Regions from separate parts of the Homo sapiens genome. Here region 2 is linked to region 1. The links come from fine-mapping of genetic effects on gene expression. A gene starts in region 1. The other region holds a variant in brackets. All regions are shown on one strand. Distances are between the middles of the regions.

Evidence for each region. PIP is the estimated chance that this variant, and not a neighbour inherited with it, causes the effect.
Region 2: its variant is fine-mapped to the expression of ANKEF1 in thyroid (GTEx, PIP above 0.99).

The regions. Positions count from the first base shown.
Region 1 is chr20:10,031,094-10,039,433 of GRCh38, reverse strand. ANKEF1 (ankyrin repeat and EF-hand domain containing 1) reads right to left here and starts at 4,447. Exons shown (of 11, transcript NM_022096.6): 1 at 4,101-4,447; 2 at 3,792-3,855; 3 at 787-1,176. The coding sequence starts at 1,132. All of the region lies in intron 3 of SNAP25-AS1 (SNAP25 antisense RNA 1), which reads left to right. RefSeq lists a silencer at 4,107-4,656.
Region 2 is chr20:10,002,227-10,010,566 of GRCh38, reverse strand. PARAL1 (PPARG activating RBM14 associated lncRNA 1) reads right to left here. Exons shown (of 2, transcript NR_109861.1): 2 at 3,451-4,054. Among named protein-coding and RNA genes, the nearest start is that of PARAL1, 20 kb to the right of the region's middle. The variant G/T (reference allele first, on the strand shown) is at 4,360.

The DNA.
Region 1 (8,340 bases):
TTCTCGATTGCAGAGCTGATGTTAATGGCCTTGTATCTGCAGAAACTCAGGACAACTGCTCAAACCTATCAGTTTACATTAAGCTTATTGGTAATTATCTCAGTTATTTTTATGAGGCTGTGTCAATTCTTGCCTGAACCTTAAGTTATTTGGGCAAGAAGTCCTCAGACCATGGTCTTGAGATGATGGGATTAACGGTGTGGAAGTGCAGTTGTTTGATCTGAATCATTGTTGAAAGGTCATGTCTAAAGTTTGAAGTTGTATTTCCAAATACATTTTTAAATGATCCTAGAAAGTTGGAGTTTATGCCAGAATTGACTTTAGTCCTTTCAAGTTTCCAAGTGCAAGTCCTTCCTACATCAGACTGCTATTGAGGGGGTCAAAATCCTTTTGGAGTCCTAGGTGTAGTACTGCCTGAAATTCTAAAATGTAAAAAAGAATAAGAAATGCTCTACTTCATCTTTGTTTTAAAGAAGAGTTTATAATTTATAATGAATAATCAGTGTGTATAATGTTCAAAATTCTCCTCATTTAAAAGAAACCACCAAACACAAATTAATCTAAGTATATGAGCAAGCTCTCATAAATGATTTCCCTAAGATATAGCTATCTCATTTTCAAAGTATGAGGAGACAGTAGGTTTAGGTATAGGAGTGAGAATTTAGCCTTTCCCTTAAAACCATAAGTAATTCACTTCTAAAGTTGGAAAACAAAAAGAGTCCATGTTATTGCTTTCTGGCTACAAAATGAATTGCAATCTGCTGGAGAGGATGTCGGGATTTTTACCTTTTCCTTCATTATCAACTATAGTCATATCAGCCTTTGCCTTTGCTAATATTTCCATTGACAATTCATGGCCCAGTTCTGCAGCCCTCATTGTGGGAGTACAGCCCATTCGGTCTTGCACATCAGGGTGAGCACCAAGGTCAAGGAGAAAGCTGACCATATCAATATCATTGGAAACTGAGGCTAAGTGCAAAGCACTAAGTCCATTAATGGGTTCTGTATAATTGATTAGTTCAGGGTATCCAAGCTTGGTCAGCTTCTCTATCTGCTTCTTGTCTTTGTTCCGCACACATTGAAGAACTTTGTAGATCTGTAAGTTCTCAAGTCTCTTATCTGCTAAAGCCATGCTTGACCAGCTCCTTGAAAATGCTTTCTGGACCAAAACTAAAGCTGAAGCAACAAAAAAGAAAAATAACTCAAAGTTAATTTTATCATCTTCATTTTGATTAAATAACAATATTTTGGAACTTCCTTAAGAACAGAGATTGTTTTTTAAGAAATGTTCAGAAAGTAGGATTTATACATAAATATCAAAAATATTGAGTGGGCATAAAGTTAAAACAGTTCAAACAAATCTTCCATCATAATTAAAAATAGTTTGCCAGGTGGTTTTCTTATTATCCATTTAACCTTCCCTCCTCATCACACTTTACCATTTTACCATGAAGAAGCTGAGGTTAACTAAATTGCCATGGTAAGGGTTTGAGTTCCCACCATCTATCTACATGGTTTCACACCAGCAAAATAGAGAGATCATGCAGGTTTTAATAGTTTTAAGGTGTTATAAAAACATATAATTTTGAGGTGTTCATTATAAACAAATCTACTGGGCTCTGTAACATATCAGAGATGTGATGAGTGATTCCTATGTCATCTTAAGTGGAAAAGATGTAGTTAAATGGCTGCAAGGAAACTGCAAATCTTCATAAACAATCTCCCTGTTAAATTGTGATGGGCATTCTAGTATGTAATTTTACCTCCTTGTACGGAAAATCTTTTGGATTGAGTAGCAGGCCATGCTAGGTATGACCAGTTGTTTCTTCATTTCTTATGAGAAAAGAACTCCATTATCACATAGGGAATCCTATCCGGGTCGTTTGGATGGGGCTGTCCCTTCTGTCCCCTGCCAGAGGAAAGCGTCTGTGGCCTAGGCTTGGCCCATTTGAGGGAACCATCCCTTTCCAGGTACACTGAAGCTCAAGCATATGTGCATAAAAGACATCAACCAATCAGCAGCCCATCATCCAGAACTATGAGGGAAGACTATTCTGCTGAAGTTGTTAAGCAGTATGGTGTGGGGCTGGGGCGCAGGTAGCTCTCTTGGGTGCCACAGAGAGAGTCCATGCTTGGAGGATGGAGAGAGACTGAGATTGATGGCATTAGTTGCAACATGGATTCCATGGTGCCAGAAGCCATCTACCACTTTGTGGGTAAATACATCTTCTCCCCCGTCACCTTATTTTGGTATAAGCTAGTTAGCTAAGTTTCCAACATTTGCAATGAAAAGATTCCATCTTACTACAAAAGTTGAAACTATGCACCATTTTTCTCCATCGCAAGCCTGCTCCCTCACCTACATTCTCTACGGCAGTGAGCTCTCTCTCCTTTAAATGTGTCTCTCTAGGCACCACAACATCTCCATCGCCTGCTTCCATCCAACACCAATGCCCCCTCCTGCTCAGGCTCCTTTGCTGACTCCCCATTTCAAGAAGCCTATGTTGGGTGCCCAGGGCTAGGTCCTCAAGACTCTTTTCTGTCCTCACACACTCCCCTGGTGTCTCGCCCTATCCCATGACCCTCGACCCTCAGCCCAACTCTCACTCTGTCACCCAGGCTGGAGTGTAGTGGCACAATCTCGGCTCACTGCAACCTCCACCTCCTGGGTTCAAGCGATTCTCCTGCCTCAGCCTCCCGAGTAGCTGGGATTACAGGTGCCCACCACCACACCTGGCTAATTTTTGTATTTTTAGTAAAGACAGGGTTTCACCATGTTGGCCAGGCTGATCTTGAACTCTTGACCTCAGGTGATCCACCCGCCTCAGCCTCCCAAAGTGTTGGGACTACAGGCGTGAGCCACCGGGCCAGGCCTCCTTTGCCTTTTAATCTGTTTATAACATGCGGTGGACTAGGGAACCAACTGAGGCTGCCTCAGAGTCATCCACTTGGACTTTGCTGCACGGCTTGGTGACACTCACCTTAGCTGCTATTTATGGCTTGTTTTATTATTATCGGCCATATTCCGATTAGGTGCGGTGTCATCATACTGCATATGTATATGTGTCATCTATGGAATAGGGCAAGATGCTCCTACATAGGTAATGATTAGACTGAATCAATGCCACTTGATTTGTGAAAATAAGGATTTCCCAATCAGGGACTTCAATGTTGCCTCTGTTAGCACCCATCTCTAACGGAGAATTAATTAGCAGCTACAGTGATGAATTCAGTAGGTCCATGGGTCGGTTTCCTGTGGACTGCCTCCCTCCCAGCTAAAGCCCTGAAGTGCTGGGGAGAGGGCAGCACCCTGTATAGTGTCCTTCACAATCAACTGCTAAGACTGACCAAGAGCTCACCCCACTGCAGGAAATCACACAAGTGTAGCCCTTGGGTCCTGGGTTCCTTGTAAATTGAGCAGCATATAGGATCCTCCACATACAAGCACACCTGTACTTTTCCCCAGCATGACCCTGGGCCACCTTAGTCACATCTAACCATCTACCAAGGTAGTGGAATAGAGCAGAATGTCTTGACTTGAGGTCCATGTTCGGGGTCTGAATACTCGGAAATTACATGAAAATCTGTGGGAATCTGTGTGTGTTCAGGTCATTTAACTCTCAAAGGGGGGCTGTGCGACAAGGAAGGATCATTAGAAAGAGGAATGGAGGAAGACAAGCTTGGTACAGTGGAATGTAGGGTTTGAGGTGGGGAAATCCGTTGTGATCCTCCCTTCCCTGTATCATTATTTACACAAACTAGTTGGATATAAATATGGATATGCTACCTACCTAGTTTTTACCTCAGTTTCTGCATCTGTGAACTGGCAATAGCAATGGTGCCCACTTCATGGGACTGTGTGAAAAGGAAATGAGATATGATCCTTGTAAAACATTTAGCAAAGTCCTTCAATATAGGCTCCTTATGAATACACCAAACTTTTGCGGGTTTCAGCTCACCCACAAGTGTAAGCGATAGTTTACATGTTGGGGGTTCTCTACTGTGCTTTCCACTTTTTAGTCTCCAGAAAAATCTGGAGAAGAGAGGAGTGGAGGGGGTAGAGATGTAACGTCAAAGGAAAAGCCATGTGTCATGCTCACCTCTTAGTCTTCCGGGCGATCAGAAGCCAGGGATCTCTGGGCACCTATGTGCCTGGGCCTGCTGGGGCGACCGGGGAGGCCCCTGCTCTCGTCCTCTGACGCTCAGCGCTGGCCCAGCCGCGACCTTGGGCTCCCGGAGCCCGGCGGAGGCGCCCAGGCGTGAATGATGTCCCTTGGGTAGGGCTGGTGAGCTGGCGCGCGGGACAGCAGGGCTGGGTGTATGTGTCCATGGGCCCCGGGTCCCCGGAAGGCGAGCGCGCGGGCAGGTGAGCGCAGGGGGCGGGGTGGAAGCCGGAGGGACCGGGCTGATTGTGAGCTTCCGCCACGCAGGGCGCGGCTGCCGGGGCAACCGCAGCGTGCGCGGTGGGGCGGTGCTCGCCTCCGCCTCCGCCTCCGCCTCCGCCTCCGCCTCCGCCTCCGCCTCCGCCTCCGCCCCCGCCCCCGCCTCCGCCTCCGCCCCTCGCGCCTGGCTTCGACGCCAGGTGGCCGGCCTGGGCGGGATGGGGTAGCTGCGCTGGGTGTTCCAGGGCGGAGCGCAGAATGCTGCTGTCTTGAGGATTCCGCCCTTCTCTCATTCTCTTCTCCCACCTCCTGCCCTGGGTCAGAACGTAATTTAGTTATAAAATTAAAGCTGCATATGGCAATTAAAAAATGAAGTAAAATATACAATAAATATTTAGTTTACAAAGTACAATTAAATGAAAAATACAATAAATTACACAATAAAGCGAAAGTGAACCTACTCTCAACTGCCACAGATTCTTGCAAATCTTCCCAGAAATTTTCTTTCCATACTCTAGGATGCATATATGCTTAAAAAATATTTATACACAAATGGAAGCAAATATGGAGATCACTTTATTTCAGGGCCTACAAATGCACCATAACACCCCTCTCTCTCCCTCCACACATGCTTTTTGGCGGAAAATTCTGAAAGCTTTGGTTTGATTATGTGAATGTAAAACATATATATGTGTGTCTATATATATATGCTTTTTAATGCAGTATGTAATTGCTTCCAATTAAAAACAGTAATTCCTTACACCAGCCTACCCTATTCTACTCAGAGACTGTTTAAAAATGTTAAGAGCGAAGACATGGAATCAACCTAAGTGCTCATCAATGATAGACTGGCTAAAGATAATGCGGTACATATACACCATGGAATACTATGCAACCATATAAAGGAACAAAATTATGTCTTTTGCAGGAATATGGAGCTGGAGGCAATTATCCTTGGCAAGCTAACGCAGAAACAGAAAACCCAATACTGCATGTTCTCACTTATGAGTGAGAGCTAAGTGATGAGAACACATGGACACATAGAGGGGAACAGCACACACTGGGGCCTATTGGAGGGTAGAAGGTGGAGAGTGGGAGGAGGGAGAGGATCAAGAGAAATAACTAATGGGTACTAATCTTAATACCTGGGTGAGAAAATAATTTGTGCAACAAAACCACATGACACAAGTTTACCTATATAACAAATCTGCACATGTACCCCTGAACTTAAACGTCAAATAAAAAATAATAAAAATGTTATTAAGGACTATTTCATGCACACCAAAATATACTGTATGATATATGGAAAGTACATACCATACCATACCATAGCTAAAGAAATACCATAGCTAAAGAAAAAGAAAGCTAGGAAAAATAAAGGAAAAAGGAAAAGGAAAAAAAAGTCTGCCTCTACTGCTGTACTTATATGTATTTCTTCCCAACACTGCATCCTCCTCTTCCTGTTCCCAGAGATAATACCTGTTCTGAATTTTACATTTATCATCCCAGCCTCTTAAAAATGCATTGCTACATTGAATGCCTCCCTAAATAATGCATGTTTAATATTGCATATTTTGAGAATTTATAAAAATGTGGTAGAATGTTGTGTATTGTTTTGATGACTTTTTTCCTTTCAACGTCTTGTTTTTGAAATGTATCTTTGTTGGTATGTTTAATTGGAGTTCCTTTATCTAAACAGCTGTAGGCTATTCCATTATATTACCATTCCACACCCCTTTCAAATCAATTCCACTATTGATAGACATTTGGGATGTTTCCAGAATTTGCTACTAAAAGCAATACTACTAAGATCATGTTTATAAATGTCTTTGGACGCACACGTTCAAGAGTTTCACTAGAGTATATGTCTAGGAGTTAAATTTCTGGGTCATAGGTTATTTATAACATCAAGATAAAGACAACTTGTTTTCCCGACATATACAGCAATTTAGACTCCCATCAGCAGTGTGTATCTTAGCCAAAACTTGGTTTTGTCACACAAAAAACTTTCTGCCAATCTTGGTATCAATGCTCTTTTATAATTTACTTTACGTGACCTGATTACTAATTATTAATCTGTAAGTTTGATTCCTTAGAGATATTTGAGTGTAAATTTATTGTCAAACTGTGTCCAAAATTGGTGGGTTCTTGGTCTCACTGACTTCAAGAATGAAGCCAGGGACCCTCGCGGTGAGTGTTACAGCTCTTAATGTGGCGCATCTGGAGTTTGTTCCTTCTGATGTTCGGATGTGTTCGGAGTTTCTTCCTTCTGGTGGGTTCGTGGTCTCGCTGGCTCAGGAGTGAAGCTGCAGACCTTCACGGTGAGTGTTACAGCTCTTAAGGCGGCGCTTCTGGAGTTGTTGGTTCCTCCTGGTGGGCTCGTGGTCTCGCTGGCTTCAGGAGTGAAGCTGCAGACCTTCGCAGTGAGTGTTACAGCTCATAAAAGCAGTGTGGACCCCAAGAGTGAGCAGCAGCAAGATTTATTGCAAACAGTGAAAGAACAAACCTTCCACAGTGTGGAAGGGAACCCAAGCGGGTTGCCACTGCTGGCTCAGGCAGCCTGCTTTTATGCTCTTATCTGGCCCCACCCACATCCTGCTGATTGGTAGAGCCGAGTCCTCTGTTTTGACAGGGCGCTGATTGGTGCGTTTACAATCCCTGAGCTACACCCAAAGGTTCTCCATGTCCCCACCAGATTAGCTGGCTACAGAGTGTGGACACAAAGGTTCTCCAAAGCCCCACCAGAGTAGCTAGATACAGAGTGTGGCTTGGTGCGTTCACAAACACTAAGCTAGACACAGGGTGCTGATTGGTGTGTTTACAAACCTTGAGCTAGATACGGAGTGCCGATTGGTGTATTTACAATCCCTGAGCTAGACATAAAGGTTCTCCACGTCCCCACCAGACTCAGGAGCCCAGCTGGCTTCCCCCAGTGAATCCCGCACGAGAGCTGCAGGTGGAGCTGCCTGCCAGTCCCGCGCCGTGCGCCCGCACTCCTCAGCTCTTGGGTGGTCGATGGGACTGGGCGCCGTGGAGCAGGGGGTGGTGCTCATCGGGGAGGCTCGGGCGCACGGGAGCCCATGGAGGGGGTGGGAGCTCAGGCATGGCGGGCTGCAGGTCCCGAGCACCCCCCGCGCGAAGGCAGCTAAGGCCCGGTGAGAAATTGAGCGCAGCGCCTGTGAGCTGGCACTGCTGGGGGACGGAGTACACCCTCCGCAGCTGCTGGCCCGGGTGCTAAGCCTCTCATTGCCTGGGGCTGGAAGGGCTGGCCGGCTGCTCCGAGTGCGGGGCCCGCCAAGCCCACGCCCACCCAGAACTCCAGCTGGCCCGCAAACGCCGTGCGCAGCCCCGGTTGCCGCTCGCGCCTCTCCCTCCACACCTCCCTGCAAGCTGAGGGAGCCGGCTCCGGCCTTGGCCAGCCCAGAAAGGGGCTCCCACAGTGCAGTGGTGGGCTGAAGGGCTCCTCAAGTGCCGCCAAAGTGGGAGCCCAGGCAGAGGAGGCGCCTGGAGCCAGCGAGGGCTGTGAGGACTGCCAGCACGCTGTCACCTCTCAAAGCTACCCTATTCACTCTCAACTACTTACCACATAACTCTCAGATTATTTTAACAGAACCAGGGCACCGTTTCTTGAACTACTGTTTCTCAGTGTAGGCAAAGCCTCACATTTGAGTTTTTTTTGACATAATGGAGCCTAGAAGTCACTCAGGTTCCTTGGGTCTCAGTTGTAAAATCAGAATAGTATGAACTGCCCTCACAAGCCGTAAAAGAAGTATGCATAACAATGACATAAGCTCCATCTTGGCTCTGTGGTTGATTCTTGGGGAATACTTCTGTGGATAAACAGTTCCAACTATGTATTATAGGTCATCAATAGATCTTTCCAATGATAATCTTCCCCATGTTTGGAGACAAAGTTGGTATCAGTAACAACCTTGTTTCTGTTCTGGAGAAAGTTCCT
Region 2 (8,340 bases), 29 kb after region 1:
GATTCCCTCCAGGGAGCCCTTCCCATTGGCTCTTTCCTAATAATTTCATGTTTTTGGGTTTCCTCAGTAAAACTTTGGTCTTAACAAAAGTCTTTATTCCCCTGTTATAATTATCACCCTAACTACAGGCAAGAAAAAAAATAATCTACCACTTATATCAGTCAACTACTGCCGCTATAATGTTACCTCATAGATTCACCCACAAATTTAGTGGTCACAGAAGTAAGCATCTGCTGTCATGCTTGGATTCTTGAGTTGACTGCTATTGACTCATTTAGAATATGCTTGATTGGGCAGCTCTATTTCCGTATTTATGTTCCAAGACTGAAGCTCTTGGCTATGATGGGTTCAAGTTTGCTCCACGTTTCCTTCCAGGGCCTAGGCTGAAGGAGAAGACATAGCAGCCCATGGGACATGTTCGTCTCATGGATGATCACAATTGCCAAGAAGATAAGCCAGCATACAGGTTATGCCAGGTCTGCTAACAACTTCTTTTCCAAAGCAAGTTACATGGCCAAATCTAGAATCAAGGGGTGGGGCAGTTCACTCAGTCCACTAGGCAGTAGTATGAATTTATAACTTAATTAAGAGGAAATGAAGAATTGGGGTGAATTTTTAAAATCTATGATACCACTGAGAGTATTTCCTTTCTGGACTCTTTCGGCTCTGCCCATGCTTCTAGCCCTGGTGAAATCCACTGTGTTTAAGACCTATTTTCATATCTTGTCATCCAGCTTTTCTATCAGAAAGCACTCATTATTTGAGTGGCTCCATCTTAGTAATGAACCAGAGCAATGACTAGTAAGAGAAAATTTAAAAATATCCATCAGTCCCCATGTAGTCTTCACAGAAACAGAGCCAAACAGTTGTTACTTAACATAGTTCAGTGAGGTTCTTGGTTTATAGGTGAAAGCAATAAACATGTTGGTTTCTTTTCTTTCCTCATTTGTTCTGCAGCAATAGCAAAGGGGATTTTCATTAAAGTGATCCAATTCCAGTTTAAAGTTTTGGTCTGCAAAGTTTAACAAATAGTCTCAGTTTCAGAGTTCATTTTAACTGCCTCTAACCCTTTACTAATTAACTTACCATCTTTCCTTCTAGATGCTAGAAGAAGACTGTTGCTATTGTTTTTCTCCATGCTCAAGGATTTTTGTCCTTTGCAAAATAATCTCAGAATGTATTGTAGAAGCTACTGATGCCCCAATCTATGTCCGTCAGCCAAATGTCTGGATTCACTGCAGCTGCGCGACACACCCATGTCTTTCTACCTCAACTATCCACGCCTCTCTGCTTGCTTCTCTGCCTGTGGGGCTTTCTTGGCAGTACAGGAGTTTGCTCTGCCTAGAAGTGTAATGAGTTTAATTTCCCAGCAGCAATTTTCAACCAGTGAGAAACTGGAACTGGTGCATAAACAGCCCAGATTCCCTATCACCCTTTGGGCCACACTCTCAGAAAGCTTGAGATTGCGGTTACCTGCTCCCTGCTCCCTTGTGCACACACCTTTCATTGGCTGTCTTCCCTTTTCTACTTCACTCCTCACTCCCTTGTTGCACTTCCTGGGATCACCTGTCAAACTACCTGGGGCATGGTGACATGCATCTGTAGTCCCAACTACACAGGAGGTTGAGGTGAGAAGATCACTTGAACCCAGGAGTTCTAGTCCAGCCTGGGCAACATAGCAAGACTCCTGTCTCTTAAAAAATAAAATAAAATACATGTATCTACATCATTTTCTCAGGGTTGGCTTTTGGAGGAGCCTAAACTAAGACTGTAAGCAGGAAACACTGAGAGCTCTCCCTAAAATGCACAAAACTCAGAGAAACTAAAGCAATAAAGTAACTTAATTTATGTGTAGATAAAAAGTGTCTCAGAGATGGCATTGTTCTGTCAGAGCTGGCAAGTTAAAAAGCAGCCAAATACAAAAAATATGCACAGAAGAAAAAGAAAAACACTCATCCAGGTGCTGGTCTGTGTTTAAAGCACAGAGAGGTGCAGTTTAGTCTTAGGCTTCTTCTGTGCCCTGGTATATTAGTCTGTTCTCACTCTGCTATGAGGACATACCCGAGACTGAGTAATTTATAAAGTAAAGAGGTTTAGTTGACTCACAGTTCAACATGGCTGGGTAGGCCTCAGGAAACTTACAATCATGACAGAAGGGGAAGCAAACACGCCCTTGTTCACATGGCAGTAGCAAGGAGAAGTGCCACGCAAAAGGGGGAAAAGCCTGTTATAAAACCATCAGATCCCGTGAGAACTCACTATCATAAGAACAGCATGAGGGTAACGACCCCCATGATTAAATTACCTCCCACCAGGTCGCAGCTCTAACACATGGGAATTACAATTCAGATTACAATTCACAATGAGATTTTGTGTGGGGACACAGCCAAACTATATCACCTGGCTTCTTCCACTCCCTAACTAGTATTACCAGATCTTTTCTCTCTGTGGGTGCTCCTTTCTCTGACTATTGTCCAGAAGGGACAAATATGGTCCTGTGCTCATTATTTCAAGAACAATAGATTTGCATCAGACTCATGTGCTTCTGAGAAATGATGTCGAACCACTCTTGCGTTGTAGCTCACATCCTCTTGGCCACATTTTTACAGCAACCAGCTTTGTGATAGTGTCACTGCCAGCACCTTGCATCAGCTGCAGCACTTATCTCTTGCTTCTCTGTTACCATCTGTTAAGATGCCTTCTGCAAACTACTCAGCCATTCTGAAGCAGGTGCAATCTTTGAAGTCCACGGTCGTGAACAGCCTTTCGGCCAACATGACCAATGGTAGAAGACAGTCAATGGATCATCCCTTCTCTCATTTGTCTTTCTGGTGGACAATTTTGAAGTGTATTCTGTGTAGTTTCTCAGAGTGTCCCCTGGAGACCTGTGTCTCATTTGCTCACAGCATTGTTTAGATTAACACATCTTCTTGATTTTACTTTTTCCTGCATGTACACTCTTGTGTCCAACCCAAGTTTCTGGGGAACACTATGCTGTTTGGGTCCACATTTCCCTGTTTCTCCCTTCCTAGTGGCTCCTCACACAACCCTGGACCAATTGCTCTGACATCAACATGGTCTCCATCTTGCCTTAAAATGAACAAAGGGGTAAAGATTTAAAAATGAGAATCTTGCTGCTAACTGCTCTGAAGGTATTAACCACGTGTAAAATTTTGAACAAATGTTTATAACTCTAACTTGTTGAATACTTGTTGACATACTTGTTGAATTTGTTAAATTTTAAAAAACTTACTGATTGTAATTGTTGAATTTTTGAGAACCCTAATTCTTCCTCAAAATTGGTCCTTCATTCATTTCCACTTTTCTTTGGAATGTACGGTATTTACAACCATGGCTGCAGATTTTTTGGGGGTTGGTTATTGATTCAGAAAAAATGCTTATTAATATGTCATTTGGGCAGGCACTATAAAGAATATAGAGTGACTAAAATGCAGTTGCTAAAATACAAGGATAATTTAATGATGAAATAGGAAAAGCTTTACAAATAACCAGAGCAAGTGAAATACAGAGTATGATCAGCATAATGAATAAAGTGTTGACATAATACATAATACATGAAGTCCTAATACATAATGTTATGGTGACAAGAGAAGCCCATCTGGTCAGAAGCATAGACTACACACTGTTTTTCAGTTGGCTCATGAAGGATGCTCCTCTTGGGCTGTGCTGAGACTAGCAAAGACAATTGGTGAGCTTTTTTTTTGTCACAATGACAAAAATGTTTGTATTTGGTTGGCTAAGACATTTTGAAGCAACATTTTTCAATTTAATTCTTGAGAACATTTTGATGGCTCGCTCTCGACATCTCAAGCTCCAAGGATATTTCAACAAGTTTCTGTGCTATGTCATCAAACAGCATGTTTCTCCTCTCCAAGATTGAGCTTTTAAGAGTTACGGAGTCTACTTTTCCTGAGGTCGTGAAGTCCTAATACATGTACTTTTGAAGCATGATGACTCTTCATGCCTCCTGGGTATTTCTGCTTCTTTATGAGAATTTCATTGTTATTCATGTGTAGATGACAGTTTGAATGACCTAGAAAGAACAAAACATAAAAGTAATGATTACATAATTCCTGCCATCCCTAATTAACTATGTTTTATTTTCTAAGAGCTGCAGATGTTATATTACTCATAAAAGTCTGTTCATGTATTATTTATGCCACACGAATAAAATGTTTGTTAGCTTGAAACACTTAAGCAAATTCTCTGGGTTTCTTTAAATTAAAAAAGCAGTATGAAGTTATATTAGCCTTGTGTCTTTTGATTTTCTGTATTCTGAAAGGCTTGACATCCAGGGCCTTGCTCCTGCCTCACAAGGTTCACTAATTCCTAGAAATA[G/T]TAAGTCAACAACTCTCCTGCTAGCAAAACTTTCAAATGCAAACCAACCAATTCAGAGCCCAACCACTTCCTTATCAGGTCCTCCTCATACACCAGTATCTCCACCTGCCCAAATCTCCCCAGGTACCAGACAAGGAAGGATAAGCCCTGTGCTCAATACTATTTTTACAAGATAAGCACTTACATATTTCACAATAAGTCTAAGAAAAACTTGGAAAGAACAAATATCAAGCTCTGAACAGCGGTGACCTCAAGGGCAAAGGATTAGAGAACAAATTTTTGAGTTCTCCCTTTCATAGGATTTTTTTTTAATGTGAGAATATAGCATGTTTTTATTTTTAAATTTTCCCTACTTTCAAATTTTAAAAAGTATAAAGAGAACCGGTGAAATTAGTTTACTTAAGCACATACTTCATAGCTTTGTAAATATTTTTTATAAATCCTCCAGAGTTTCAGTCTCCTTTCTAAAATAAAATGAATACAATTAAAATGAAATTTTCTCCTTGTAATTATGCCAATGAGATTGATAAAAGGCATGAATTTGGTGGGGAGGAGGAGCGTGCGTATTATGGTGCCAAGTTGGGAAGAAGGAAGAACACGGAATTCTACCCTATTTTTTCATTTTAAATTAATGCCATTTGGAAGGGAGGGGGGCAATAACATTGAGGGAAGAGACACCATACTGTGTTTTCTTTGATTTGAGGGGCATAAATTGTAAGTAAATAAATACCATCTTAAAAGCTTTTTATGGCACTCTTTTGAAAGACATATTTGAGAGCTCTATATATTGTCTTTCTCCCCTCACCCCCACCTGTCCCTCCAGGGATCTTTGACTTTTAAGGTTTTAGGAAATAAGGCACTGAGAAAAATGAGAAAATAAGAATACTGAGCCAGGATCATGATTCAAATAATTTAGTGAGAGCCTTAAACAAAATTAAGAAGTAACCAAAATGAAGAAAACAGAATGAAAAAATGACCAAACTGGGTTAAACATTTGGATGTATTTTTAGTGTTTATTTTCAAGGATTCAAGTGGTATTATCTTTCAACCCTGCAACTTCCCACTGTGGCTGCATGTGAAAGTATGTGGCGATTACATCTGGAACAGGATGAGGCCTGCTATAAATGTGAGGCCTGAACCCTGCCCCTCACCCTCCCCATGGCAGGCACTGATGGACTCACTAATTCCTCCACCACTGAGAAACACAGAGTGGAAGCAGTGAGTTCACTGTGCTATGCATGTGCTTAGAAAATGTCCCGTATTCATTTCCATATTTCTTATGATAATTAGGCAAATTTTATCTCACTTTCATGAAGTAATAAATTTAAAATGAAATTAAATGAAATAAAATATTCTTATCTGTTGGAGAAGCTGTAAGCAAAACCCAAGAGAAACTGCTACACACTTTCTTGTGTGGGGTCAAGGCAGTGCAGTGAGGAAGAGATGAATGCATAAAGTATTTTTACTTTTTAAAACACTCGCCTATGCTGTATAAGTGTCTCTAGCATAGTGTCTACTAAATGGACATGCACCTGATAAATGAATATTGATTGAAAAGTTAAATGAACAAATACATGATGCAATTTTGGGGAGGAGGGGATCATTTTGTTAGCCTTCCAAGAGGACTGAAAATTCATGTTGAAGTAGGTTATTAAAATATTATTGTAAGTACTATGTACTTGTAGGGAATTCATTATTTCTATTGGTTATCAAAAAAAGCTGCATTAGTTATCATGACAGACAAACAGATCAGCATGGCCATGTTATGATTCTTTTTTTTGGCAACATTAAATGCTTCTGTTTCTCTCATTACTTATTGGGAACCCGAATGTGGTCATATATATCCATGTGCTAGATAAAATGATGGATGACCTGTGGTATTTGAAACTGGCTTCCTTCAGCTGTGATCGTATAGTGGTTAGTACTCTGCATTGTGAAACTGGGGTTCTTCAATCAAACTTAATGGGAAAATCTTATTACCACTCATAATAGAACATTATTCCCTTTACAAAGATATTAACCTTGATGCTTTGATCTAAAAATATTTAAGTATTTAATTTTTAATGCAATTCTCTTAACATTTAAAAATAATCTATGACATGCTAGGTGTTACAGATTTCTAAAACAATGAAACATGGCCCTGACCTTGTGAAGCTTGGGGTTTAGTGGGGGAGTCAGGGCTATATATACCATCACAATACACAATAGTGCTATACTTAGGGGTATGAACAAAACAATATTAACTCACAGAGGTGGTGATGACATAGGAGTTAAGAAAAAATTATTTAGGCAGATAGTGAGGGTACGAGAGTCCTTGGTAAAGTTTTCCTTTTAATGAAAAGCAGCCCCCAAATCATTTTCTTTTCTAACAAAGAGCAGCCTGTAAAATAGAGCTGCAGACATAGACAAGAAAGCTGGAAGCTTGCACAGGTGAATGCCAGCAGTTGTGCCAAGAGGAAAAGGCTATCTGGGACTAGGCATGTGCAAAATGGCGACTCCATGTTCCCTTCTTTTGCCAGCTACGTGTACAGTAAGGAGCAGACAAGTTGGCCCTGGCCAAGTGAAAAACCCATTTGCATAATAAGATTAGGGTGGGGTGGCCAGCCTTCCCTGTGCGCTATATAAACATCACATCTGGTCCAACCAATCTGTGGGCCCTAGTAAATCAGACACTGCCTCCTGAAGCCTGCCTATAAAATCTGGTGCAGTATGCCACAGGCTGGTTTTTCCCTTTCGGGAGCCCCTCTCTCACGAGAGAGAGAGCTATTCTCCTTTCTCTTTCTTTTAGCTAGTAAACCTCCACTCCTAAACTCCCTTGCCCTGTGTGTCCATGTCCTTAATCTTCTTGGCGGAGAGACAAACCTTGGGTATTTACCCCAGATAATGACACAGCTTCAGTGAGGTCACTAAAAAGGAGAAATTTTAGTTTGAACTTTTTTATTTATTTATTTTTAGTTTCAATCTCTTTTAGACTTCACTGGATAAAAAAGAGAAGAAATGAATAAGTGAATAAATAAATGTCCTGCCTCTAAGAGACAGCAAGGGCAAAGGCAGAGAGGAATTTAAAAACATGGTATCACAGCACATTCACTGTGCAGTAGCTGGAAATAGAATACAAATCATGCATTGCTCTTCAATGTCAAATTACTGAAGGCCATATGGTGTCTATTTGGCTTGTGTAAACTGCACTTTCAAATACAAGAAACAAAACAAATTGTATTTCAAGTTATTTGCTTCTTTCTTAAGGAGGAATCTACCTACCGTTTCTAATCTCCTTGTCTAGAGGGAACAAACAGGTTTGCATCAGCAGCTATTCTGTTGGTGTAATATGCATGTCCAAAAATAGCACCAAATCAAATAGTTTTAATCCTCAATTTTGTTAAATAGCTGGATATATTGGATATTTTTCCAAAATAAATCTAAATAAATATTGAAAAACTAATAAATATACCAACATGGTATACTTTAGAACTATGAGTGATAGTACGTCAGGTAGCCAGGCAAGTGTAGAAACAGATGTTGCCCAGCACAAGGTCTCTGGGTCTGTTTCTTCCAATCTCCACCCATCATCACTCTGGCTTGACTCCTTGATCATCAGCCTTTGTGTTCTACTCATGATTGTGCCCTTTATTCTTCATTTTTATTTATTTATTTATTTATTTATTTATTTATTTATTTATTTATTTATTTATTTTGAGGCGGAGTCTCACTCTGTCGCCCAGGCTGGAGTGCAGTGGCACAATCTCGGCTCATGGCAACCTCTGCCTCCTGGATTCAAGCGATTCTCCTGCCTCAGCTTCCCAAGTAGCTGGGACTACAGGCGCCCACCACCACACCCGGCTAATTTTTTTTTTTTTTGTATTTTTAGTAGAGATAGGGTTTCACTGTGTTAGCCAGGTTGGTCTCGATCTCCCGACCTTGTGATCTGCCCGCCTTGGCCTCCCAAAGTGCTGGAATTACAGGCATGAGCCACTATTCTTT